2 separate regions of the Homo sapiens genome follow, and region 2 is linked to region 1. The links come from fine-mapping of genetic effects on gene expression. Tissue or cell type: whole blood. Region 1 holds a variant in brackets; the other region holds the start of a gene. All regions are shown on one strand. Distances are from middle to middle.

What was found. PIP is the estimated chance that this variant, and not a neighbour inherited with it, causes the effect.
Region 2: RESF1 starts here. The variant in region 1 is fine-mapped to the expression of RESF1 in whole blood (INTERVAL, PIP above 0.99).

The regions. Positions count from the first base shown.
Region 1 is chr12:31,922,519-31,926,871 of GRCh38, forward strand. No RefSeq gene overlaps it. Among named protein-coding and RNA genes, the nearest start is that of RESF1, 35 kb to the right of the region's middle. The variant ATATATATTTT/A (reference allele first, on the strand shown) is at 2,374.
Region 2 is chr12:31,957,028-31,961,203 of GRCh38, forward strand. RESF1 (retroelement silencing factor 1) reads left to right here and starts at 2,388. Exons shown (of 6, transcript NM_018169.4): 1 at 2,388-2,464; 2 at 3,750-3,844. LOC105369725 (a long non-coding RNA gene) reads right to left here and starts at 2,277. Exons shown (of 2, transcript XR_931503.2): 1 at 2,101-2,277; 2 at 1,466-1,777. RefSeq lists enhancers at 10-509, 513-1,306 and a silencer at 2,359-2,698.

The DNA of each region.
Region 1 (4,353 bases):
TGGAGCTCTTTGTCTCATGACCAAGAAGAGTAAGGAATGTGGACACCAAGGGTGAGTTTAGAGCAAAAGTTTAATAAGTGAAAGAGGAAAGCTCTCCACTGCAGAGAGGGGACCTGAGAGGGTTGCCATTTCACAATTGAGTACAAAGGCTGTTATGAGGAACCCAGAGGAACCAGATGGGTCTGGGCATTTCATTTGCATAACTGAAATTGCATAAGTTGTGAATTTCTGGTAGCTCCACCCTGTACCCCTAGTGTGCTGGCTGACTGGTGGTTGTCTTTAGAAAAGGCACCACTTAGAAAATGGCATGATGGTGTAAAGGACCAACTGGAGCCTTGGCTCACAACCAGCCTAGTGTTGGAGTGATGATTCATAGAGGTTTGGCTCACAGTCCAAAGTATGCCCAAAAAAGGAAAGGAATGTACTCACCACAGCCCACCATCTACATGCCCACAAAAGGAAAAGAAACTATTTCCTGGAAGGCTGCTGCTTACACAAAGAACAAAGGTGCTTCTATGTTGGGCCTTGCTTCCTTATCTGTGCAGCTATGGGTATATCCTAGGCAAGCTGCCTGTGCTAGTTCCCTTATCTGTATCTGTAGCCTGAGTTTTCAGGTTGTTCCTTTGTTTGAAAGAATTCTACTGAGCACCTGCCCTAACCGCCTTCCTAGCTGGTTCTTTCTTTTCTCCTCTCTCAGCTTGATGCCACACTGTTGCTGTCAACGAAACTAAAATTATGGTGGCTCAACACATTGAACTGACAGATTAGGCCTACAATCATGAATCCTACCCTAACCACATATGTGCACCACAATTGGGGCCCACATCCTCAACTCCTCCTTGTTGCTCAAATTTGGACTATTCCATTTGACACAGATCATCCACTATCATTACCATGACTCCCTCCTCCATGGGACATGACTTCCTGGGACAAATCTATTCCAGAACCAAAGGGCTTACTGAAATAATTGATCTCAGTGGTTTCTAAGGAAATATTTAAATCAAAAGGGGAAAATCTGAAAAGAAATCCAAAATGGAGATGATTATGCCAGAGGTCTCTAAAAAGGAGCCAGGAGGGCATAAGGAGTTGGACCCCCATCACCCATATACTCAGATGAAATTTGACATGTTCAAATTGGACCAAATCACAAACATCCTAAAGAAGCAGCTGAATTTGATGTGAACTGTTTACACTGGGCCTGATCACAAATCTCCTGAGAAGACAGCTGTGCCAAATTAGGTCGTTCATCACCAAGAGACATCTAAGCTGTCAATCAGCCATTGTCAATCATAGACTGTGCTAAAATTTTCCACTTGTATAAACTTGCCAGGAACCTTTATAAGCCCCTGCCCAGCTTGTCTGTATGGAATATGATTTAGCTGCTTGCTCGATTTGTGTCTCTCAAATTGCAATTTATAAAAGATCTCAATTAAAATACCTTCTCTCATATGCTTGTCTGCAGTGTTGGTTTTACTTCTTATTAGTTGCCAATAGATAAAAAATGGACATGCACAAAAATTGATTCTATATTTATCTAGGATGAATTGTTCAATAAATAGTATTGTGACAACTGAGTAGCCAGCTGGAAAACGAGAGTTGAACTCCTACAGCTTACCTTCCATTACAGTTAATTCTAGGTGGCTCAAAGATGTAAACATTTTGCAAAGTTGTAAATCCATAATGAAAACCAGGAAAAGATGTACATCCTCTTCCCAAGCATGCTAAAGTCTTAAGCAGGCATTACATAAAATAGGAATTACAAATAGCAAACAGTTAAAGCTGTTATCCCCCATAGTGAAGAGGAAAGCCACAAAGTTATCTGTGTTATCCACCAGAATGACTGAGTTTATTTTATTTATTTATTTATTTATTTTATTTTTTTGAGACGGAGTCTCACTCTGTCGCCCAGGCTGGAGTGCAGTGGCGTGACCTCAGCTCACTGCAAGCTCCACCTTCCGGGTTCACGCCATTCTCCTGCCTCAGCCTCCTGAGTAGCTGGGACTACAAGCACCCGCCACCACGCCCGGCTAATTTTTTGTGTTTTTAGTAGCTGGGATTACAGTTGCCCACTATCATGCCTGGCTAAGTTTTTTTTTTTTTTTTTTGAGACAGAGTTTTGCTCTTGTTGCCTGGGCTGGAGTACAATGGCATGATCTCAGCTCACTGCAACCTCTGCAAAATACAAAAATTAGCTGGGTATGGTGGCATGCACCTGTAGTCCCAGCTACTCGGGAGGCTAAGGCAGGAGAATCGCTTGAACCTGGGAGGCAGAAGTTGCAATGAGCCAAGATCACACCACTGCACTCCAGCCTGGCGACAGAGCGAGACTCCGTCTTAAAAAAAAAAAATATATATATATATATATATATATAT[ATATATATTTT/A]TTTTAAGAATGTCCATTTCACCTTTGCAAAAGCCAAAAGATAGAAACAACTCAAATATGATCTATAGAATATCCATATAGTGATACCCAAGAAGCTAGAATATTAGTTGCCTTTGGAGAAGCAAACTGGATGGCTGAGATGCAGAATTGGGAGTGTGATTAATTTTTCCTTTTATTCTTTTGACCATGCCTAGATTCTACCAGTTAAAAATAATATAAATTATTAATAAAAACATGAAGAGTTGATTAACATACATCACATATTTTGAGTACAGGGATAAATATGGGAGACATGCTGTCCCAGATATCAAAATATAAAGCTATCAAAACATTGTTGGCCAGGCGTGGTGGCACATGCCTACAATACCAGCACTTTGGGAGGTTGGGGGAGGAGACTGGCTTGAGCCCAGGATTGTGAGACCAGCCTGGGCAACATAGTGAGACTCTGTCTCAAAAAAAGAAGAAAAAATAACATTGTCATATTTAAGCAGGGACAAATTGGCCACTGAAAAAGAATAAGGTCCAGAAATAGACTCAAGTGCATATGTATACTATATAGCAACCTAAAGTTTCCTTTCAAATTGTGGGGAAAGATGAACTATTCAACAGGTGCTGTTTTGTTTGTTTTCAAGAAAAATAAAAATCCTTACATCATATCAAATAATAAATACTTTTGGTGGCAGGGCAGGGGGGATTTAAAAATTTTAAGCCAAATAAAGATATAAAGCTAACAGAAAAAAAATTTTAGAAAATACTTTCATAACTTCCAAGTGAGAAGGTATGTGTGTATAAATATATACCTTAAATATGTATACTCTATGTATATTTAAAGAAAATGTATACCAATTCTGTAAAGAGGTAAATGATAATTGCTTGATTTTTTTTTTTTTTTTTTTTTTTGAGATAGAGTCTCACTCTGTCGCCCAGGCTAGAGTACAGTGGCGCGATCTCAGCTCACTGCAAACTCCGCCTCCCGGGTTCATGCCATTCTCCTGCCTCAGCTTCCCGAGTAGCTGGGACTACAGGTGCCTGCCACCACGCCCAGCTAATTTTTTGTATTTTTAGTAGAGACAGGGTTTCATGGTGTTAGCCAGGATGATCTCGATCTCCTGACCTCGAGATCCACCTGCCTCGGCCTCCCAAAGTGCTGGGATTACAGGCGTGAGCCACCGCGCCCAGCCAATTGCTTGATTTTTGATACCATGCCAGATCATTTTCCAAGTCCACTTGCCCGAATGTCACACTCGTAAGAAATGATAAGTATCCATGTGGGATTGGTTCTAGGATCCACCCTCAGTTACCAAAATCCACGGATGCTTAAGTCTCTTATGTAAAATTACATAGTATTTGCATATGACCTACTCACATCCTCCTACACACTTTAAATCATCTCTAGATTACTTATAATACATAATACAATGTAAATGCTATGTAAATAGTTGTAATTCTGTATTGTTTAGGGACTAGTGACAAGAAAAAATAGTCTGTACATGTTCAGTACAGAAGCAATCTTTTTTTTTTTTAAGAGACAGGGTCAGGCGTGTATACAGGCGGCACATGTTAATAAACTGTTTCGGCCAGGCACGGTGGATCATGCCTGTAATCCCAGCACTTTGGGAGGCCGAGGTGGGCAGATCACGGGGTCAGGAGATTAAGACCATCCTGACTAACACGGTGAAACCCCGTCTCTACTAAAAATACAAAAAATTAGCCGGGCGTGGTAGCAGGCGCCTGTAGTCTCAGCTACCGGGAGGCTGAGGCAGGAGAACGGCGTGAACCCGGGAGGCGGAGCTTGCAGTGAGCCGAGATCGCACCACTGCACTCCAGCCTGGGCCACAGTGCGAGACTCCATCTGAAAAAAAAAAAAAAAAAAAAGACGGGGTCTCAGTCTGTTGCCCAGGCTGGAGTGCAGTGGCACAATCATAGCTCACTGCAGCCTCAAACTCCTGGGCTCAAGCAATCCTCCCACC
Region 2 (4,176 bases), 34 kb after region 1:
ATGTTGGCAAGGCTGCTCTCTCAAACTCCTGGCCTCAAGTGATCCTCCCCAAAGTGCTGGGATTACAAGCATAAGCCACCACGCCTGATCCCCAATCTTTTTTTGTTTGTTTTGTTTCATGAGACAGACTCTTTCTGTGGCCCACGCTGGAGTGCAGTGGCGTGATCTCGGCTCACTGCAACCTCTGCTTCCTGGGTTTAAGCAATTCTCCCGCCTCAGCCTCCCGAGTAGCTGAGAATTACAGGTGCCCACAACCACGCCTGGCTAATTTTTATATTTTTAGTAGAAACAGGGTTTCACCATGTTGGTCACGTTGGTCTCAAACTCCTGATTTCAAGTGATTCACCCACCTCAGCCTCCCAAACTGTCAGGCCTCTGAGCCCAAGCTAAGCCATCATATCCCCTGTGACCTGCACGTATACATCCAGATGGCCTGAAGCAACTGAAGATCCACAAAAGAAGCGAAAATAGCCTTAACTGATGACATTCCACCATTGTGATTTGTTTCTGCCCCATCCTAACAGATCAATGTATTTTGTAATCTCCCCCACCCTTAAGAAGGTTCTTTGTAATTCTCCCCACCCTTAAGAAGGTTCTTTGTAATCTCCCCCACCCTTAAGAAGGTTCTTTGTAATTCTCCCCACCCTTGAGAATGTACTTTGTGAGATCCACCCCCTGCCCGCAAAACATTGTTCCGCGGAGCCTCTCCCAAAACCTATAAGAATTAAAGATAATCCCACCACCCTTTGCTGACTCTCTTTTCGGACTCAGCCCGCCTGCACCCAGGTGAAATAAACAGTCTTGTTGCTCACGCAAAGCTTGTTTGGTGGTCTCTTCACACGGATGCGCGTGACACAAAGTGCTGGGGTTACAGGCCTGAGCCACCACACCTGGCCACCCCCAATCTTTAAGAATATTCTGGCCGGGCGCGGTGGCTCATGCCTGTAATCCCAGCACTTTGGGAGGCTAAGGCGGGCGGATCAAGAGGTCAGGAGATCGAGACCATCCTGGCTAACATGGTGAAACCCCGTCTCTACTAAAATACAAAAAATTAGCCGGGCATGGTGGCGGGCGCCTGTAGTCCCAGCTACTTGGGAGGCTGAGGCAGCAGAATGGCGTGAACCTGGGAGGCGGAGCTTGCAGTGAGCCGAGATCGTGCCACTGCACTCCAGCCTGGGCGACAGAGCGTGACTCCGTCCCCCCCCCAAAAAAGAAAGAATATTCTGTATGTAGTTTTTTTGTTTTGTTTCTGACAGACGCAAACGCACTCTTCTAGTAATGACTAAAGACTTCTTCGTTTAATTCACCAATGAACTAATCTGACAATTTATGTAACAAATAAATTCCTATAAACATAAGCTCCCTTGCCCCTCTCCAGTGGCACAATCTCTGATTTGCCATCCTGGTTGCAACCTTCATTACTAAGTAAACGCTTACGTAAACCTTAATAATGAGATTCGGGCAATATGATTAAATATTGGTTTATTTGAGTGCAAAGTTTGAGGATGGCGACCCGGTAGGACACAGACTCCAAAAGATGGGGGTCAGTGCTTCGAAAGGGAGAAGTTTGAGGGTCGTTTACACAGGCAGGGTCTGGGAAGCTTAACAGGATGTCAACATTTTCCATAGAAGGTTAACGCATAGCAATTTGATTGGTTCAAGGCAGTGTTTCTTTTTGGGAAGGGTCTATTTAACATTCCACATTAAGGATGTAATAGTCAAGCGGTCATTTATCTTATTCAATGCGTATTTTATCTCAGATGCCATCTGGTCTGAGCTGGGAACAAGAAAATAAGGGAGTTAATCTATAACAAAAGGTCGGCAATTAAGAGGTCGTGCTTCGTGATCTGGTCTCCAAAGTCAACTTTCCTCAGGGACTTTCAGAATCCCCAAATAGACTATCCACTTTCTTTCACACTTATTTGCCTCTAACTTGTTGATTTCTTTTTTTTTTTTCTGTTTTTTAAGGGTTAACAATCTCTTGGGTGCACTCTGACTTCCATGCGCTTTATAGAAAAAATTGGTCCTGAGGCCAGCAGCAACAGTCGGTCTCAGGAACTTGTTAGAAATGCACATTTTTCAGCCCCACCCCAAACCTACTGAATCAGCAGTTTTGCTGGTGGTTCTCAATCTCTCTTTAACGTGCCCTCTGGGTGCTGCGGATGCACGCTGAAGGTAGAAGATCGCTGCAGGAGATTTCCGCGTCGGGCAGATGAAAGCGCTCTGCAAGCCCGGGTGTTATCTGCGGGCCGGGTCCGCGGCTTCTCTGGTGGCACTAGGACCGCGGCGGCGCGGCCCTCGCAGCCACCGCCTCGGGCGTGAGGCGGAGCGTAGCTGTTCCTGGATCCTGGGCCTGGCTCCTCGACCCGCCCCTGGAGGCGGACCCCACTTGACTTAAACTCTGGGGCCCGGGAGGCCGCCGGTTTTCTCCCCGCTTGCCGGGGTGGTCCTCTTCCCTTTGTCGGTAAGTGTGAGACGAGCACCCCGAGGTCCCTCCGCCTTCCGGGGTCCGGGCGGGGCGGGGGCCGGGAGCCGGGAGCCAGAGGCACTCGCGGTCCGGGCCTGCGCGCGGCGCAGAGCGCTTTTGTTCTGCGGCAAAGACGCAGTCGCGGGCGGCCCCGGAACCCGGGCCTCGGGCCCCGCCGGCTCGCGCGTCCCGCCGTCCGCCCACCGGAGCTGGGCCGGGCCGCCGCGCTTGCTTCTGCCCGCCGCACCGGGGCCGGCCCTGGGCCTCCGCGGATGCCGAGCCTTGCACCGGAGGGCGGGCCTCGCTGGCTGTTTTCCCTCATTGCCTGGCTCTGCGCGGTAGAGGTCGCGAGTGGCGAAGGCTAGGACGCATTTTGTCGAACTGCGAGGCGCGGCTGGTGAGGCGGGTGGGTATGAGAGCTGCTTATGTTTTTAAGGCTTTCCTGTCGCTGGAGTGAAAAAGAAAAATCTTTTTTTTTTTTTGCTATTTCCCGAGGGTTCTCCTCCTCCCCGGCCCTCTTAAGCCGAAGCCTCCTGGAACAGAATTGCTGTACTGGCATCTATCTCCAAGTGGTCCGCGAACGCTTCTGCGCCGGCGATGGTTTCTGTTCCTCAGCAATAGTTCCTTGAGGCATTTTTAAATGCACAAACGCATACCCATCTTAGGTGTTCTCGAGGGACACGGATTCCCTAAGCAAACGTCCTTAGGGTCCTGAGTTCAGCAGCAAACTTTCGGGGAATCATTTCCGTGAAAACAATTTATTTGTAGTACATCGAGTGCATACTGTCTTAACATAAGGATGTGTATGAGCTTGAGGCGCATTTTCATTTAGTGGCGGGCGGGTGCATTTCAGTAGGCGGGCCGCAGAGCTTGTTTGGGGATTGCATTTTTCTGCTAAATGTGTTAGCTTTAATCATGTTTCAGTCACTGTTAATGTGCATGCATGTTAAGGTTTTAGGTTTTTTCCCCTGTGCAGTCGGATTTTTTTCTGTTTAATATTAATCCAATAAAGACAAGTGCAGAGATAAAGTATTATTGTTTTGCAGTGATACTACAATAGCGGACCTAGAGGAGCGCACATAAATTCTAACTTAAGTGAATGGTATTTTCAGGCCAGACCTAGTTTCTATTTCTGTTACTTAGGACACTTAATAAGAATTCAGTAAACTTAGCATGCTTTCAGTGCAGCCATAAAAGAAAACAGTTTTGCACAGCAGTGTCATATCTAGTAAACACATTAGCATGTGCTCTTTTATTATAAAATGTTTCTTGCTGTCCCTAGGACCAAAGAAGTAAACACTGTGTGGAGAGGGACTGACGTGTTTGGAGGGAAATGGGAATGTACACGATAATTAAAGAGTAAAGTTGTGCTCAACGGTAAGTGTATCACCTCTAAGAAACCCGCCCTGATTTAACCAGGCGGTTATTCACACTCAACTATGGAGTAATTCACCTATTACCGAATAAAATTACTAGCTCAGTGAATCAACATCGGTTTTAAATTAAACTGTGGGTCACAATGGAATTGACAGCAAAGCTTGAGAAGAAATGTTGTTGGCATAGTACTGAAAAATCAGTTGTTAATCTTAGCAAAATAAGGAAAGAGGTCTTTGGTAAGGGAATTGTGGTGGAAGTTACCTGGGCAGAGGTCTGCTTCTGTCTGTGCTGTGTTTATTTGATTGTTTTTATTATATTTTATTACTGTTGGT